2 separate regions of the Homo sapiens genome follow, and region 2 is linked to region 1. The links come from fine-mapping of genetic effects on gene expression. A gene starts in region 1. The other region holds a variant in brackets. All regions are shown on one strand. Distances are between the middles of the regions. Region 1 holds the start of PARP8 (poly(ADP-ribose) polymerase family member 8). Region 2 has its middle 31 kb from the start of PARP8.

Evidence for each region.
Region 2: its variant is fine-mapped to the expression of PARP8 in blood mononuclear cells (TOPMed, PIP above 0.99). The same link has a PIP of 0.9 or more in monocytes and whole blood.

What each region holds. Positions count from the first base shown.
Region 1 is chr5:50,661,547-50,671,621 of GRCh38, reverse strand. PARP8 (poly(ADP-ribose) polymerase family member 8) reads right to left here and starts at 4,985. Exons shown (of 26, transcript NM_024615.4): 1 at 4,436-4,985; 2 at 3,497-3,551. The coding sequence starts at 4,526. RefSeq lists silencers at 3,861-4,190, 4,883-4,942, 4,993-5,142 and enhancers at 3,163-4,362, 3,798-4,710.
Region 2 is chr5:50,630,865-50,640,939 of GRCh38, reverse strand. It overlaps the pseudogene LOC202319. Among named protein-coding and RNA genes, the nearest start is that of PARP8, 31 kb to the left of the region's middle. The variant C/A (reference allele first, on the strand shown) is at 5,700.

The DNA.
Region 1 (10,075 bases):
ATAAAAATCTAAAAGAATAAATTTTAATATGTTAACAGAAGACAGAAGTCATGTATTTTTTACTTTCTTCTTTTTGGCGTATTTCTTCTTCTAACTTTTTTTTTATTTTTTTTTTTTACAAAACACAATTCTTATTTGTGTACTTTTAAAACCTCAGAGTTATACTTTCACAATACATTCCTGGCTGAAAGTTCACACTCGGAATTCCAGAGCAGTCCATGGCCAGGCCCACTGGGCTCCACTTGCTCTCTCCTTGGCTTTGGTAACCACTGGCCCCAGGGACTCAGCCTGCTTTCCTATCCATCCCCTCAGTAGCTGTCACCATGCAGGTTACCCCTTCTGTTCCTTCTACCACTAACTCCATGTCTGACTGCAAGTGAAAGGAACAGAAGCCCAAACCTTTGGGTTTTAAGGAGTTTATTGCTAATCAGTAAAACAGAAAGAGACAGAAGATAAGTATGACAAAGTATAGGGAAGAAATGACTTTTGCCTAAACTTCCAAATTGTGTACAATTGAAGCCTCTGCTTTATAGTTCTTAGCACACCTCTCAAATAAGAAGGCAGTACTGGGAAGGCTCTGAACCTGTGGCAGAACCACTGATAGCTGTGGAGCTATTCCAAGGAGTCTGGGAATCAGGGGGATTATCAAGATCATTGCTAGAATAAATTAATCTTACCGTATATATAGCACAAGTTTTCAAGCATATGTAAATGCTACTTATAACCAAATAATTACACCTTGTTTTTCTTTAAACTGTAACTCTCAATTATGTCTCTACATAATTTTTTGATGGTAAAGTGTCTGCATGCTCAAAAAGCTTGAAAACACTAATGGAGAAGAAGGAGGTCTCAGGAGTGTGATGGAACAGGTTTACATGGCAGCTTCAACATTTAATTGATGAAAGTGACTATGTGTCTTAAACTCTCTGAGCCTCAGTTTGCACATCCAAAAGCAAGGATATAATTCCATGAACCTTTCCACCTCAAGTCCACAAGGCAGAATAGCAAGATGTTAACTGCCACTCTGAGGACCACCAAATAAAAGGACAATTTATTAGGCCACTTGCCAGCATGGACACAATCGCCTCTTGGCATTTCTTATTATCCACAGAAAAATTAAAAGTATAAATGTAGAACAAAATTATTATTTTTTTTTAATAGTAACATGTAAGATCAATCTTTGTCTTTAAAATACCATGTATCTCATTCTTGGAAAGCATCAAAAAGAAAACGGTATAGTAAGTTTTATCTACAACTTGAATTAAAATTATTCTTGAAATATGTTCTTAATGGTTAGATGAAATGGTAGTTAAATACAAATAGAGATAATCATATACTCTCTCTCCATAAGGCTCCCACCTCCTTCAATAAAGTCTAGTTCACCTAAAATGATACTATTAATTCAATATTACAAGTTGATAAGCACATTAAATCAAAACACAGCAAGATTATTTTAAGAGTCTGACTGAAATGTCAGGATAAGAAATAGATTAATAAATATTGGTTTATAATGTCGGTAATGAAAACAAATACGTTATTTTCAGAAAATAAAAGGTATTCGCCATTAGGTACAAATCATAAAGGGATTATCTACGGTTACTACACTGTAACAACTTTTTACATATTGTATTTTAGAACAAGCTTTTGAGAAGACAAAGCAACACATCAGCAGTTTAACCAATTGTCTTTCTCTTTTAACAGGCTGGTCTACATTAGATTAGATATAAAAGGCTCAGGTACACTTGTGCTCGATCTTAGCCAAATGGCTGAGAAACAGCCAGGTACATTTAAATCAGTGACAAAAGAAAACACTATCCTTTAATAAAATTACATAAAATAGGAAACATCTCTTACTTTAAGAGCAACCATGGTACTTCTTCCTATGGTGAAAACTGATGTTATCTCGCTTAATTATTCATCCCAACACCTGGCCTTGCTCCCTTTTCCACCTCTAGCTATGTTAACACTAGAGTCCAATAATTTGCTGATAAAGAATCTTAACTGCAGTATCTAACAGATCTTAGTGATTAAGCATATGATTTACCCTTTGATTGTACAGATAAGTAAACTGAGGCCAAAAGAACTGAGGTATCTTATTAAAAATCAGAAAGCTAGTTACTTGAAAAGCCCACCTGTCCTTCCTGTCCACATGTCTCACCAGAAAAACAGCAATAGTGAAAAGTCAACTCTGTTTTTAATGGGCCACTTTGTATATTTTAACTGTTAAAATAATCCAAGAGGATATTAGTCATATACGAAGATCCTTTAGATATAATGTGTAGGACCAGCGTTAATTTAATCAACCAAGTCTCCTCTCATTGAATTATTAATTCATAATTACAAAGATGACATTACAGTAAATTAAGAAATACTGTAATTTCATTCTCTCCCAAAAAGTATACACTTAAGTTTGGTGATTCACTGTTATATTTTCAACTAGTAAATCAATGTGCTAATTCTGGGGCTTAGGTATATTGCATATACTGGAATGATATTCACTTTAAATGTTTTGAGATGTATAATGTAATACAGATCCTACGTGTTTTTAAAAGTTCACATCAATTTCAAGCTTTTAAAAATGTATGTACACAAGAAAGCTTCTTTTGCAATTTATATGTTTATAAATGTTTCCATTAGCTAAGATATATTTTGGAATGTGATCAAACAATATTGAATGTCAAGTCCTAACAGCAGGGCTGGTCTAAGGAATTCCCTCTAAGCTAAATCTGGTACTTCTCATATGTGGCTACTGCTCTTTTAAACTACTGTGTCCCTAAAGGGCTAAAAGGAAGAAAATCCTAACTCAACAAGTGAAGGTAGCAAGGCATAGTATTTGAATGGCTACCTTTCATTTTAACTCTACTTCCTAAATTCAAAATTGGATTTGGGTTTGTTTCAAGTTGTTCACAATTTACTAACGAAATGTGCATCTCTCATTCTTCCCCCAAAAGAAAGAAGTCATCCACTCCAGCTACATATAAGTCTCCAATTTCTATACGTGAAAACCGAAATACCACTCATTGAAAAAAAAATGTACAGAGAATTGGCAGGCTGCATGTTTATGTAAACCTTCAGAAAACATGGAAACACGCAGCCCCAACTCACCAGGAAAATCAACACTTCTGATCAAACTATTTTGTGACATTTTATGTCTTTTATACATTTCACTTCATATCCAGTATTCCAGTTTTGCACCGGCGTGCCTGTATCAACCCCAAATCGCCTGAGAGCAATCTAGTACTGTAGCAGAACAGTTTCAACATGAAGAGTTCTGCTCATTGCCTGTGGCGTGGTCCTCGAAACACCTGAATCAAACATTGATTCCCCTCCTCCTGCTATTTAAAACCGAGGGACGTCAGGCTTGGGTAGCAGGTAAAGAAAAGCCACAATAATCAAACAAACAAGCAACCAAAATACCCGAACACGGAACACGCTAAGAACAAAGGAAACACAAGAGTGTGAACAGGAAATGAAGCAACTCTATACACATAAATACCTTCTGGGGCCGCCAACGTAGGTAAAAGTAAAGGTGGAGTCAGAGTATCTGAAATCTGAAACAGAAAGTCCCGTCAAAAGCTACCCCTGGAGTGGATTTGTTTTAACCCCGATCAGGACTTGAGCCCCACATTCGGTGGTGTCAGGGGAGGCCTGGCCGGGCAGAAGGCAAGGGCTAGAGGGCGGCGAGGTCCCTCTGCGCCGCGTCCGAGGGGATGCGGCGCGCCCCCGACTGGGTGCAGCGGGAGGCCGCCCCCCGCAACAAGTGCCGGGTGCCATGGCAACAGCGGGAATTTCCCGATAGGGGAGGCCGGAAGCAGCCTCAGCCGGGCTCGCGGTAGCGAAAGCAAAATCCCGGGGGAGCAAAATGGACGAAAGGCGACCCCCAGGCAGGGGCGCTGGGTGCCTTGGGAATCCGAGGAATCCCTTCTCTTTGCCAGTCGGAGGGGACTAGAGGGAGCCGAAGGGGCCGGAGATGGGCCGAGCGCTGCCCCCCGGGGGTCCTCGGCGCCGGGCGCAGCTTACAAGCGCAGCGCAGCGCAGCAGGCTCCATTCCCGGCCGCCGCCGCTCAGCCCATTGCGCAAACCAACCCCGCTCTGCCGCCGCTGCTGGAACCCAGGAAGCGTGCTTGGAGGCTTCGGGCACTACGCGGGGCTGGAAATACCACGCACTGCCCCTTCGCCTAGACCCCCGCTCCGGCCACGCGGGCTCTGCCCTCAAAGCTGGTGGCTGCCTCAGACTTGGCGGTGGGGGAGGGGAAGGGGAGAGGCTGGCGCCCCCTCCCCCTTTTGGCTCCCGCGCTCGTTGCAGCAGCTGTTGCCAAATGAACCCCAGAATGGGGACGTGCAACCCTCCACCCCACCCCCAGCCACAGACGTCGCGGTCAGAAAACTGGGAAGGGGGCGCTGGGTCCGAGGTTCTGGAAAAGCAAGAACTCACCTGCAAACAGGCAGTCCTTCTCAGCTCTGGACTTCTGGATCACGACGTCGATATCCTTCTGAATTCGCTCTTGCCTTGAACACATCCCCATTAAATAAATCCCTGGAAAAGAAGCAGCCGCTATTTCCACCCCACCCCACCCCCCTCGCACGCTTCCAGCTTTCGTAAATATTCAGTTAAAAATGAAACCTCTGGCCGAGGCAGGGGCTGAAGGCGAAGTGGTTTCGGAAGTGATCCTGGGTGAGAGAAGAGGAGGAGGAGGAGGGGGAGGAGGAGGAGGAGGGGGAGGTCGGCTTTGCATTCCCAGATGTGACCGCCCAGCTGCTGCTCGCCGCTGCTGGATTCCAATTTCCTCCCCTTCTGACAATGGATGGTGATGACACCAAGTCTCACTTTCTCCCTCACCCGCCCGGACCAACGGCCGTGGGGGCCGAGGTGCCGGGGACAGCCAGAGAGCAATCACCGGCTGGGCGGCGGGCGCCGGCGAGGGGCGAGCCCCGCTCCGGCTCACGCGCGCACACCCCTCACGGCTCGCACGCCGGCCTTCCACACCCGCGCACACTCGCGCCCGCGGGCGGCGGCAGCCGTGCCCAGGCTGCTGCAGCGCCGCCCGCCCGCCGCAGACCCTCCGCGCCCGCCGCCTAGTCACCCCGCCGGCCGCGGGCTGCCGGGGCTCGCAGAGTATTAGCCATCCCGGGCGGGAGCCGCTTCTCCCCACACCGACCTCCACTCGCGCCGGGAGCTGAGCGGTCGTGAAGACTCCCTGGGGCTCCCAGCCTTCCCTCTCCGCGCCCCTCCCCCCATCACTTTTATGAATTCGACTCCACTTTCTAAAGGAATTATAGTCTTGTGGCAAACCCAAACCGGAGTGGCTGGGAGGGGGAAAAGGGGGGAAAAGAAAATCTTTAAAAATTAAAAAAATAATAAAACGAACAAATCTTTCCTTATTGCCACATCACATAACACGGAAAAGGCCTTAAAATTACTCCAGACGTGCACCCTCCCCTTCCCTCAGTGCCTGAGTCTTTTTCCTCCAGATCGAAGTAGTTCAGCCCTTTTGGGGCGCCGTTTACGAAACACAGCCCCTTTTGAGGGACTTCCTCCTCTTGAAACTCACCAGTTCTCCCTTCCTAGGTGTTTCTGTTCATGAGAAATGGTCAGAATCAACTGGCACGTTCCAGGGTCTTCCTAAAAGATGGAAACCTGTTTGGCTTGATTTTTAAAACCACCTCCTTTGACAGTCAAGGGAAAGCTACAATCCAGGTGTTCAGAAATGAGATACTGCTCTGATTCTCACTTTCTGTTCTGCCTAAGGACACCCCAGGCTGACGTAGCTGCCCCACCTCTATATTGGTTTATGCCCTAGGAGAGGTCTCCAGCAGGCACTTTTCTTGTTGATCTTTTCTCCACTGAGAAGGCTCCCGCCAGTAGACCATGACTCCTTTTGCTTTGCATACTCAGTGCCATGTACAGTGCCTGGAATACAGGAGGGTGGCCTAAATGTTGGCTGAATGCACGAATGGTCATTTCTTGCAGCCTCTTTTCATTACCCTGTCTCATCACTTTTCTTATCAGCATAAGTGCCCAAGAGTTGCCAAACTGTTTCAGACCCTTAATCAATTTAGTTCTGATTCTGACCGTGACAACATGATGTTCAGCACGGTAGGAATGACTGCCATCCCTGAAGGAGTCTTAAGATTCTGTAGAATCAATGAAAGATCCTATGTTCTAACTCCTTTATCTTTCAGGAAACAAATTACAAAATAATTTCCTTGTCCAGTCATATTCACTATGAGTTACAAAAGGAAACATTCTGCATTATTGAGATCCACTGCAGCCTTTGATGTAGTAAAGCCACAGTCACAACAGTCTATATCTCCTGCTCAGTCCTCTCCTGAAATGCTTCCTGTTTAGGGTAGGACAGGTTCAAGCCCTTTGTCCTTCCTGGATATGTTGCTTTGTGTAGGCCCTTTGGCTGCCAAAAATGCTCTCTTCTCTTCCACATCACCACTGAGAATCATGAGTATTTCTTCTTCCATTATGTGCTTTAATTTCTCTGAAAGGCTGAAAGTCTATTAACTCACAAGAATTTATTTTATAGTTATCTAGCCACAAGGCTTGCATCTTCCAAGTAGAACCCTTACTACAAATAAATGTGAAATAGTTTTAAAGCTACCAAATATTTTTTTGTCTGGATGAGCTCTTAGTTTACTACTCACTCCTTAAAATAGGCCTTCTTGTGACTTGTCCTATATTTGATTTTTTTTTAAGCTTCATGGGCTGCCCTGTTTTGGTTAAACAAAGCTAACCTCACCCTGTTCATGCCCTTAAGGTGTGATGTATTTAATAAATATTTGTACATTTGAAGGAGTAAGATTAAAAAATAAAAACCTATCTAGTATGTATTTCTGCAAGATAAATTTCTCTAATTAAAAACTATACCAACGTAGATCCTTCCAAGGATCTTCCAGGCTAGATCCTTATGGAGCACTTTGCTCAAAGTAAGTCAGCCCATATCCAGGATCCTTTCTTTACCTTGCCCCATCTCCGAATATTTAAATGTTTATATTATGTGTGCTCAACATACTTCCCTTATCAAAAACTATATGCGCCTTTGAGATGAAACAGTTCTATCTCTCCTTAAACACTCATGAGTATACAACATACACACACATGCATTCAGGAACGTGGCACATAAGAGGCCCTTCACCAATTTGTTAAATAAATAAAATCAATATTTACAGTGAGGGAGAACTCAGGTGGTATCCCAAACTAAATTGAAGATAATAATCTACATGTTGGATGATAGACTCTACTGAAAAAATTCCACCGGTTTAGAATAATGATTCAAAGCCACCAGATATAATTTATTAGTGAAAAATATAAATTTTTTGCCTGTGCCAAAAGGCCCAACTGCGGAAGTATAAGGTAATGGACATGCGGCATTAAGTTCAATAATGTGATGTGGGTATTAATAACTAACATTTATCCAGAACTTAATATTTATCCAGAACTTATCCAGAATTCATTAACATTTATCCAGAACTGGTAGAAACTGTTCTAAAAGCTTTACATATAGTTACTCATTTAATATTCACAATAACCCGTATATACTAGCTGTTATTTTTCTCATTTTACAAAAGAGGAAACAGGCTCAAAGGGGTTAATTCATCTAAGGTGAGACATGGACTACAAGAAGTTTTTTTCTCTCTTGAAACCTTTCAGCAATTGAATTGAACTTAAAGGAATAAATATGTACAGAAGCCACACGAGGAAGTAAACCGCCCCGCCAATGGCTGCAGGCCAGGAGTGAAGCCGACAAGAAGCCCTATGATGGATTTTGAGGAGGGCTGAAGCCTGTGGACTCTCAAAATAGCCTCTGCTAGTGGCAGTTATATTTCCCTTTCTTGCATTCAACTTCCTTTCCCAAATGACCCAGCCATTAGTACAGTCTTAAGAAAAGTACAAGCCTGACCTCTGCTATTCCATGGTTATTAAGAAGAGGATAGGAGGCAGGATTAGCAAAGAGGGGAACAGCCTTCTTTGCCATATGCATGATAGTGTCATCAGTGGTAAATGCCCATGGGAATGCCTACCATCCTTGCTGGGATGTGGAAACAGCACTGGGACAGTTTGCTTTTGTGGCAGAATCAGTGAAGGAGGGACAAGGTAGGGGCCGAGGCATTGCTGTGAGAAGACACCACAAAGGGCCTTTAAACAAAGGTGAGGAAGTGGGATTTCATCTGAGAAAAATGGAGAGCCACTGGAAGGAAGATGATCTGAAAAGTTCTTTCTAATTATGAGATTGATATAGCTTCTGCTTGCGGTGGTTCTGTAATGGAAAGAAATCCGTAAAATTCAAAATGCCTGCTAAGGGCCCAACTACCTTCTTCTAAGTAGAGGGACGTGTGCAATTCTTTCCTTATAAAGCTGCTTGGCTGGTGTGGTGGCTCATGCCTGTAATCCCAGCACTTTGGGAGGTTGAGGTGGGAGGGTTGCTTGAGGTCAGGAGTTCAAAACCAGCCTTGGCAATATTGCAAGACCCCTGTCTCTACAAAAAATAAAATAAAAATTAGCTGGGCATGTGGGTGAATACCTGTAGTGCTAGCTACTTGGGAGGATCTCTTGAGCACAGGAGTTTGAGGCTGCAGTGTACTGTAACTATACCACTGCACTCTAGTTGAGATGACAGAGGGAGACCCTGTTTCTTAAAAAAGAAAAGAAAAAGCTGCCTTTGGAAACTAATCCTACTTTTCTGACCTCTTCTGATAGGTCTACTGTAAAAAACCAAAGTCAACTTTGAATAAACTTGACAAGCTGAAGGAGAACTTTAGGTGATGTTTTGTGGATTTGTCACATTTTGGTTCTTACCATACCCCCCGTTAGGTTACTAAGGTCAAATGTGACGGCACAGGGGTGGTGTTGAGGTTTTATGGCCCTTTCTAGCATCTTAACTAACCTAGGTAATACTAAAGCTACAGGATGAAACCTTAACTCTTCTTTCTAGTTCCAAATTTCACTTTAATTTAGATCCATTTTTCCTGTAAAATTTTAATTCCCCTTTCTACCTAGAAGCATTCTAGACCATAATTAGATGAGATGCCTCACTGTGCCATGCAAACAAACTCATTCTTAGCTTGTATTCATTCATATTAATTCCTTCTTTTGAATACCTCTTTTTCTTTTTCTTAGAAAGTACATAAATACTATATGAATATATTCTCAGCGCAAATGATTTAAGACATATATTAGTACATAAAGTAAAATGTGAAAATTCTTACCTATCCTGACCCCTAATTTCACTCTTCGTCCCAGAGGTAACTAGTGTTAATAACTTTGTGGGAATGTCTTGCATTACTGCATTCTCATATCTTCACACAGATGTACATATGTTGACAGATTTATACATATAAATTTTAATTTAGGTTGGGCACAGTAGCTCATGCCTATAATCCCAGCACTTTGGGAGGCCAAGGTGGGTGGATTGCTTGAGGTGAGGAGTGCGAGACCAGCCTGGGTAACGTGGCGAAACCTCGTTTCTACTAAAAATACAAAAATTAGCCAGGTGTGGTGGCATATACCTGTAGTCCCAGCTACTCAGGAGGCTGGGACCTAAGAATTGCTTGAACCCAGGAAGCAAAGGTTGCAGTGAGCCAAGGTCAGGCCACTGCACTCCAGCCTGGGTGACACAGTGACTCTGTCTCAAAAAATAATAATAATAATTTAATGGAACTACATAATATATATTGTTTTACAACTTGATTTTTTTTTTTTTTTGAGATGGAGTTTTGCTGTGTTGCCAGGCTGGAGTGCAGTGGCATGATCTCAGCTCACTGCAACCTCCACCTCTCGGGTTCAAGCAATTCCCTTGCCTCAGCCTCCCAAGTAGCTGGTACTACAGGCGTGCACCACCACACCTGGCTAGTTTTTTGCATTTTAGTAGAGACGGGGTTTCACCATGTTTGCCAGGATGATCTCCATCTCCTGACCTCATGATCCATCCCGCTCGGCCTCCCAAAGTGCTGGGATTACAGGCATGAGCCACCGCGCCTGGCCACAACTTAATTTTTCTACTTGTCTTGAAGAGCTTTTTTTCTTTGTCATGGAAAGAGATCTAGCTCATTCTGTTTAGCCACTGCA
Region 2 (10,075 bases), 31 kb after region 1:
TGAGTTAGCATTTTTTAACTAATAAATTGGCAAAACTTATATTTTGATAAAACCCAGTGTTGTTGACATCCCAAGAAAAAGGGCTATGCTCACACAGCCTTGGAGCAGGTGCACATTGATGATTTTTTTGGCGTAAAAATTAGTGGTTTCTATTAAAATCAGCAGTGTAATTCACAATCGCTAAGACATGGAATCAACCTAGGTGTCCATCAATGGTAGATTGGGTAAAGAAAATGTGTTACATATATGCCATGGAATACTTTGCAGCCATAAAAAAGAATAAAATTATGTCCTTTACAGCAACATGGATGCAACTCAACGCCATTATGCTAAGCGAATTAACACAGGAATAGAAAACCAAATACCACATATTCTCACTTATAAGCAGGAGCTAAACATTGAGTACACATGGACACAAAGATGGGAACAATAGAAACTGGGGACTACTCGAGGGTAGAAGGAGGGAGGGGGTAAAGGTTGAAAAACAACTACTATGCCTAGTACCTGGGTGATCGGATCAATCATGCAGCAAACCTCAGCATTACACAACATACCCATGTAACAAACCTGCACATGTACCCACTGTATCTAAAATCAAAAGTTGAAATTATAAAAAGTAAAAAAATAAAATCAACAATGTATATTTCTCTCAGACAGCAATCACTGTGATGTATTTGGGATAATACATGAATAAGGATGTTCATTGCAGTGTTGTCTGCAAGGGCAAAGTGAAAACAATCTGAATAACCATCAATATGACACAGAGTAAGTAATTACTGGTACGTCTGTACAATGCCTCATGCAGTCACCACTGACAGCATGGGAAAGAGAGACATCTATTATGAAATGACCACTAAGACATATGATTACATGACAAATGCAAAGTTCACGAATAAATAGTATGTATACTAGTATAGTGTACTTCTTTCTAAGAAAGAAACCATAACACATACAAGAATGGACAAGAAATTATTAACAATAGCTAACTTTGATGGTAAGACTGTAGGTAGTAAAAAGCCAGACCTTCGTTTCTCATTTTAAAACCAATGAGTTATTTAAATCTAACCCTACTGCATTCATTATCTTTATAATAAAATAAATATGTATAACAATGAAACATAGTTTTTAAGTATTTGGGATATAAATTAAACATTAATATATTACACCTCTTAAACTTTGTACTTTAGTATCCCAATTCTCTGTTAGAACTCTGAAAACTTCATCTTTCACAGTTTAGGTAATTCTTTGGTGTCTTATTTTGTTATTTTCTTGCCCTGAGATTAGCACTGTCAGATCTCCAAACTGCTAAGTTTTCCCTTTGGCAGATCAAATGCTTCTTCTTAAAAAAATTAATTTTTTAAAATGTATTTCGTAGGATTTTTGTGCTCTCTCTCCCTCTTTTTGTGCATATGTGTGTGTGTCTGATTAGTCTTTATTCTCTTAAAATAGTTAGTCCTGATAGACCTCTTTCTTCAAAATTTGTCTCAGTTCTTTGGCAGTTTGCTCTTAGCTTATAATTAAAGATCAATTTCTGACTTGTCTTGTTCTAGAAAACCTCAGTGGAAATTACAGAAAGCTGAATAGGATATTAATTAAAAACATAAACCTGGTGAAACCTGAACATAGAGGCTCCAATTCAAAGATGCTTCCAATAGTTGACATGGCCATTCATTCCTTAAAACCAGGTATTTTTCTTTCAAATTACATTACCTTTAATTCTGTAAATTGGATGTTATATAGTACCATGAAAACTGCTGTGAATAATTGTAATACTCATTGCTGAGTGATGTGACTTCTTCCTCAAGGCTATTTCTGAGGGAAATTGTACAATTAGATCTTTAGGTATTGTGACTTGTTTTGGAAATCATGGTGGCCCTCCAGGGAGCTAATGAATCTTTAAATATTTAGAGGTTCACATGAGACCCCTGACAGATATAAGCACATTAGCTCTGTAGTTAAGGGAACATTTAAAAACAGTAACATGAAATGTGTCAGACATAGAGGAAAGATGAAGAAGAAAGTAGAAGCTAATGCAAACAGAAAAGCTGCCAGCTCTCTATGGCACTCTATAGCTCTCTCTGTCAGTATTTGGTTGGCAATGTAGACATAGTGGATGAGTGCAATTACATATGTTAGGCTCATTCTGAAATGCAGGAGCCTTTTAAATTTTCATGTAGAAGCCTGACAAGCAAACTACATCTAGGATATACTTTGATAACTTTGAGTTGAGAGCTAAATTTTTTGAAGGTAAACCATCTCCCTGTTTTAAAGTAGTGTTTAAAATGATAAAAATCTTAATACGTCTGTAATATAAAATATTTAGATACAAATACTACAAATGCAAATGAATTTTTTTTTTTTTACTTCTGCATTCAACTTTTCTCTTCTCCCTTTAGGGAAAACACTTTTGTGTAAAGGCCTGCAAAATATATGTAGAGGTGTGTGTATGTTAAAAACATGTATACATATAATGCATAACCAAACAAATGAAATATCCTAAACATATGGACCTGAAAATTGCTTATAATAAATTTGGACTGAACATATGGGCATAAATGTGGTTCAGAAGTGTCCAGTTGAAGCAACTTCACTTTGTTAGGTCAACAAAAGTTGGGGACACCAAGATCTACTCCTCTGATTTTGTTCTAGCATTATCTTAATGGAAATGTTTACTGAAATGGAAATACCTGCAGTGGACATCGTGGTGGTACCTCAAGCATTCAGTGTTCCCTGATCTCACACACTCCTAACCAAATAATGAATTTCTCAGCTTCACAATGTTTAAGTGACATGAGTCCCATGCCCAATTCTTGGTCATTGTAATTGGTGCATGAAAGAGCATATGCCTTCTGCTAATCAAATCAGAATGAAGTACACCTTTTTCATTCCACGATTGAAGGGGGAAATGCCTTCTTTCCAAATGCAGCAGAGGAAGCACAAGGTACTAGGATTGGAAGTTGTCTACTCATGACATGATATTTTAAGCCATAGAATAAAACTGAGACCTAATGTCTTAGTCCTTTCAGATTGCTATACCAGAATATCACAGCCTGGATGGTTTATGAACAACATAAATTTATTTCTTACAGTTCTAGAGGCCAGGAAGTCCAAGATCTAGTTGTCAACAGATTCAGGGTCTAGTGAGGACTTGTTTCCTGTTTCATAGACCGCTGTCTTTTTGCTGTGTCCTCACATGGTGGAAGGGACAAGGAAGTTCTCTAAGGTCTCTTTTATAAGAGCAATAATCCCATTCATGAGGGCTCTGTCCTCATGACCTAATCACCCCCCGAAGACCCACTGCCAAATATCATCATCACACTAGGGATTAGATTTAAATATACAAATTTTGGGGGGATACATTCAATCTATACCACTTAAGGTAGAGTGAAGAAACAGGGAAGACAAGAAACATTTATTTTGTGTCATTATTGAACTTCTGCATTAAACTATCTTGAGCCTATACTATTGTTCAAAATCTATTATACAAGCCAGTTTGAATTTTGCTTTTTATTGTTTGCAACCAAAATTAACCTAATAAATTAAAATGTACTATAATGTTAGATCGTAATTTGTCTGTACTAGTAGTATTTGCTAGAGTGTTTAGGGGAATACTTGCTTGTTAACTTTTTAGTAAATATAACACTCCATGTTCAAATACATTTGGAAAATACTGAACATTTCACACTTTTAGAGACTCAAATCAGGCAGCACATTTTTAAAAAATAAAAATAAAACCAAATAGCATTGCATTTGGAGAATGGTATAAAAAAAGAGAATTTGATAAACTGGAGTTACCAGAACTCAGTGGATACTATGTGTTAGACATTATTATAAGCCATTAAACATTTTACAAGCTTGATACCTGAGTTAAAAATTAATAACCCAAAGACTCATTGGAAGAGAAAAGATGACATATTTTTTATTATATTAACGACATAAAAATATCATAGCAATTAACCTCATTATATACAACAAATGAATGAACATAAATAATATTAAATAACTATTACAAAGTCTCTCTGATTAAACGTAGAAATAAATAGGCACTGCTTTTGACCAATAAATGGAGGACATACATTATTTTCAAATACCAAACAAAAAGATTCTAAATGTAAAGGTTTTAGGCCCAAAATATGTTAGTCAATTCATGACAGCAGAAATTCAGCAGGTCATATTTTTGGGGTAATGTAAATGGCAGTAGAAATCATGGACTAAAGTGTAACAAACAAGAAATATCTAGGCAGGTGGAAATTTTATTAAGATGTTTTAAATTAACTTCTGGACTAGAGCAAAACTTCAAACTAAAATTCATCAGGGAGTCAGGGAGGGTCAAATGAAGAAGCATGGGGATTGAGGCAAAAACCCTGAATTATACCAATATTATCTTTTTTTTTTTTTTTTTTTTTTTTGGAGACAGGATCTTGCTCTGTTACCCAGGCTGGAGGGCAGTGGTGTGATCATAGTTCACTGCAACTGCGACCTCCTAGGCTCAAGGGATCCTCCCACCTCAGCCTCTTGAGTATCTGGGACTACAGACCCTCATCACCACCACACCCATCTAATTTATTTATTTTTTGTAGAGATGAGGTCTCACTTTGTTGCTCAGGCTGACCAGTATTATCTTAATGTTACAGAAAAAAAGTAATTCTGGCCATATATAGGTATTATTCTTTGCAGTGGAATGTCATTTCAGAAATTTGTGCCAAACATAAAATTAGTTTTCTAGTAGTAAAAAGTAATTAAACTTTATAAATTATTATTACCCCTAGTATACTGGGGAATGGGCGTGTGTTCCAAATGAAAAAACTTGGGATATCTAATGAGAGGCTGTTTTCTGTAGCAGAAAATCTATGTAAAATGTTTTTTCCCACGTGTACACTGTTGATATTTGAGACAGCACATGTTAACACTTCAAGAAGTAAAATAAATGTGTTGATTATATCCACAGTTTTCATATTTATTAACTATATATTTCATTTTTAATGTAATGCCTATTGAAAAACCTGTAAATAGTTGTTGCTTAAAATTGAAAAATACTGCCTAAGATTTTTCTATATATTTTCATATTTCACTTTTCCTGTGAGTTTAGAATGAACACTTTTAGCTAAGACATTTGGGCCTCCAAATACTAAACCTCTTAGAATGTTGGTTTATTATTTGGTTTTTACCTAAATTATTTTCTGCTTATTCAAGAACCTGAGGTCTATCCAGTTACATTTTTATTTTTTTATTTTGAAACAAATTCTCCCTCTGTTGCCAAGGCTGGAGTGCATTGGCATGATCTCGGCTCACTGCAACCTCTGCCTCCCAGGTTCAAGTTATTCTCCTGCCTCAGCCTCCTGAGTAGCTGGGATTACAGGGGCATACCACCACGCCCAGCTAATTTTTGTATTTTTAGTAGAGATGGGGTTTCACCATGCTGGCCAGGCTGGTCTCAAACTCCTGACTTCAGGTGATCTGCCCGCCTCAGGATCCCAAAGTGCTGGGATTATAGGCATGAGCCACCATGCCTGGCTGTATCCAGTTACATTTTTAAGACTAGCCAGGCTTAATATATCTTTGGTCTTTAGCGCAATTCAATTTGTTGAATTTTGTCCATTGTACTTCATGTGACACAGAATATATCTTAATTTAAAAAGACATATGTTTGTTGAGCTATCTGTTACATTTGTATATCTTGGAATTTTAAAAAATATAAA[C/A]CACAGAAGCCAATTATGGCTGACATTAACAATAAATAGGTTTACCACAGAAATAGTGGGGAACTTGTAGAACTGTTGAGAAGGCTAGAAAGCCAGATCAAAGCTAGGCAGCCAGGAAATGTACCCCAAACCATGCTGTAGAACTCATCCAGGGAGGAAACCACTGTCACCACCAGTAAGAAGTAACGCTGAAGCTGCAGAGAGCAACAGTTGCAGCAATTGCTCAATCCTAGGCTAACTGCAAAGCCACCAGCACCACTCCCACTTGTTCCCTATGCAACAGATATTGTAGCAGCTGCTACATGGCCTCCACCAGAAACAAGAGAAAGCATAACTGAATCTGCTTCTTTTTTTATTAATTCCAAAGTCGAAATTCAGCACTGGCAAACAGATTGGCAAAACCTAAATCATATGCTTGTAGCCTAGCTGCAAAGGAGGCTGAGAAAGCAAGCATTTGGCATTTTAGCTTCTAAAGCAGGAGGTGGTTTCTTGTTTTCGTCAAAACTGATAGGCTGAGGAATTCCTCAAACACAGAAACAAACATCAAATAATAAATATGCATGCTTTAACTTGTTCAATATCAATATAAACTTTCCCTTTTGAAAGTAAACACAAAAGACCCAAGCTACCTTCTAACAGAGTGCAACTATTTCTCTAATAATTGAACATGTACCTACAATCTCTTGAACAATGAAACAATAAAAAATTCTCAATCACAGCATGTACTCTGAGTCTAAGAATTCTGGGTTATGTCCATTCCTTACGAAGTTCTCCACTATACTCTCTTGACATTCTGCCACATATCATTTAAAAATTAAGTTAATCACCCTCAATAAGCCCTGTTTTAAAAAGAGGGATAAATGAAGAGGAAAGAAGGAAACTTGTTAAGATACATAAGTATGCACAGGACAATACAAGAGAAACAATGTGTTTGGATGTCAAGGCTCTCCCTTCTGCAAGTGGCCATCAGGTCACTGTTGGCATCTACAGCCATGTGCCCTCAGCTAACACCTCTGCTAGTCAGGGTTTTACCTTGTGAGATGACCCAATATTCATTCCTGACAGAGAAATGTCCTCGATAATCTATTTGTGTGAGCGTGCTATGGTCATTGTTAATTTCTTTCATTTAAAAAAATAATAGACTTTATTTTTTGAGCTGTTTTAGCTTTACGGAAAGATCGAGCAGAAAGTACAGAGTTCTCACATACTCTCACCTTCATCCCACCCCCAGTTTACATTAGGGTTCACTCTTTGTGTGGTACAGGCCTATGAGTTTTGCAAAATGCATAATGTCATGTACCCATCATTACATTATTACCAAACTATGTTCAATCCCCTAAAAATCGCCTGTTTCAGAACTATTTATCTCCCTACCCATCCCCAAACCCCTGGCAACCACTGATCTTTTTTTTTTTGTTGTTGTTACTTGGTTTTTATTTCATAATCATAAACTTAACTCAACTCTGCAATCCAGCTAGTACGGAAGGGAACAAGGGAAACATGGAACCCAAAGGGAACTGCAGCAAGAGCACAAAGATTCTAGGATATTGCAAGCAAATGTGGTGGAGGGGTGCTCTCCTGAGCTACATAAGGAATGGGTCTGGTGGTTAAAATAAAACACAAGTCAAACTCATTAGAATTGTCCACAGTCAGCAATAGTGATCTTCTTGCTGGTCTTGCCATTCCTGTACCCAAAGTGCTCCATGGCTTCCACAATATTCATGTGTTCTTTCACCTTGCCAAAGGCCACATGCTTGCCATCCAAACACTCAGTCTTGGCAGTGCAGATGAAAAACTGGGAACCATTTGTGTTGGGTCCAGCATTTGCCATGGACAAGATGCCAGAACCTGTATGCTTTCGGATGAGGTTCTCATCATGAAATTTCTCCACCAGTGCCATTATGGTGTGTGAAGTCACCACCCCGACACATAAACCTTGGAATAATTCTGTGAAAGCAGGAACCCTTATAACAAAATCCTTTCTCTCCAGTGCTCAGAGCATGAAACTTTTCTGCTGTCTTTGGAATCTTGTCTGCAAACAGTTTGATGGAGATGCGGCCCGAGGGCTTGGCGTCGACGGCGATGTCAAAAAACACGATGGGTTTGACCATGGCTGATAGTACAGGGCTCCCAGCGACGGTGGCATCTGCAAAGATAACCACTGATCTTTTTACTGTCTTTATAGTTTGGCCTTTTGCAGAATGTCATATAGTTGAAATCACAGTATGTACCCTTTTCAGACTGGCTTCTTTCACTTAGCAAAATATATTTGTTTTTTCTGTATCTTTTTGTGGCTTGATAGTTTTTTCCTTTTAGCACTGAATAATATTCCACTGTATGAATATACCACAGTTTGCTTATGTAATCACCTATTGAAGGACATCTTGGTTGCTTCCAAGTTTTGGCAATTAGTCTTCATTAATTTTTTCTTTTTTTTTTTTTTTTTTTTGAGACAGAGTCTTGCTCTGTCACCCAGGCTGGAGTGAAGTGGCATGATCTCAGCTCACTGCAACCTCCGCCTCCCAGGTTCAAGTCATTCTCTTCCTCAGCCTCTGGAGTAGCTGGAATTACAGGTGTGCACCACCACGCCTGGCTAGTCTTCATGAATATTTATAGGACTGTATAGAATTAAGAGCCATCAAAGGGGATCCCTGAATTCTTTCTGTTTTTCTTACAAATACCAGTTTTAAGGTCAAGATTTACTACCCCATGCAACAGTGTGCCACATTTTAAATTTTAAATTTTTGACTGTTTGTCTAAAGGTCTCAGGCAACCTAAAAGGCCAGTTAGAAGTCTTTCATCCTCTAACAAAGGATGGATCGTAAAATGAAATACTGTTGAGACTCTCCCCTTGGGTACTAATTCTGCAAAAACCTAGAATCTCAGAGACAAGAGACAAATATTTGGAGTGGATCATTAGATGTAATGACAAAAGGAGTCACTTCAACATTCATAACAAAGATCAAAGATTGTTGTATTTTTTATATGGGAGACACCAGACAAGCTTATACTTAGTTACTAGTTCAGAGGATACACCACCACATCCTCTGGCATGAGTACAACCTTATAAGCCATTGTCTCCAGCTGGCACTGTGATTGAGTCTTTAATAAAATATTCGCCATTCTATAATAATAATAATTTTGGTTAGTGATAGGATAAATGGTGGACCAGGTGAGTGCAGTGAATATCTACTCATTTGTTATACAACAAGTTCTTTGAATAGAAGGATGTAGAACAGGATATTATGGCAGTATGTATAAAGCATTCAATGTACCCACGGAGAGTGGTGATCAGAGAAACATGATGTCAGGTCAAGCAAATGTAATTCAAGGATATAAAGCTAGATTCCATTTACAACATTCCTTGTTGCCTTTATCATAGAGGAGCTCCAGTAAAATCAACAAGTCTGACAAAAGGTGACTGTTTTTTTCACCCAGGATATGTTATTTTGTGCTTAGCCTTGGTCCTTGTTGCTTGTGTGTTGGACACCTAATAGTCTTGACAGCTAAATAGGCTTTGGTAAGGGACAGTGGTAAAGTCCAACATGTTGCTAAACCTATATGTATTCTCTACTGCTACCACCAATGTTGCTGTTTATTAGCCTTCTGAGCAAGCAATGTAGTGCCTGGTGAAAGAAGTTGTTTCATACCTTCATATTTATTTGATAACCTTCCTGATGATAGTTTGGTGAGTATTCATATTAAGCACAAATATTCTTACACTCTGGCTCATTTTCTGTAGTTCATCTACGTATTTTTCCCCAAAACTCATTGTCACCAATCCTTCAATCTTTGTCCTTCCAAGTCCCTAATTATCTTTTTTTTTTTTTTTTTGAGACGGAGTTTCGCTTTGTTGCCCAGGCTGGAGTGCAGTGGTGCAATCTTGGCTCACTGCAACTTCTGCCTCCTGGATTCAAGAGATTCTCCCGCCTCAGCCTCTCGAGTAGCTGGGACTACAGGCACACACCACCACACCTGGCTAATTTTTGTATTTTTAGTAAAGATGGAGTTTCACCATGTTAGCCAGGCTGGTTTCGAACTCCTGACCTCAGACAATCCGCCTGTCTTGTCCTCCCAAAGTTCTGGGATTACAAGTGTGAGCCACCAGTCCTGGCCCCAAGTCCCTAATTACCTAGACAAATTTTTAGCTGCCACATATAAATCAGTAATATCTCTCCTTCTAGACATCGTGGACAACTGATTACATAGGCTGAATTTCTTTTAAAATTGCATTCAAGTAGGTTATAATGCCTAAGCAATCTACTTTTGGCTGTTGCTGTGATGTTGTACAGCGACTTCTGTAAATCAGGCTCAATTTTTCCCTCACTAATCAACTGGCCATAGAGAAATTCCCATGAAGACATAGGTATAGATTC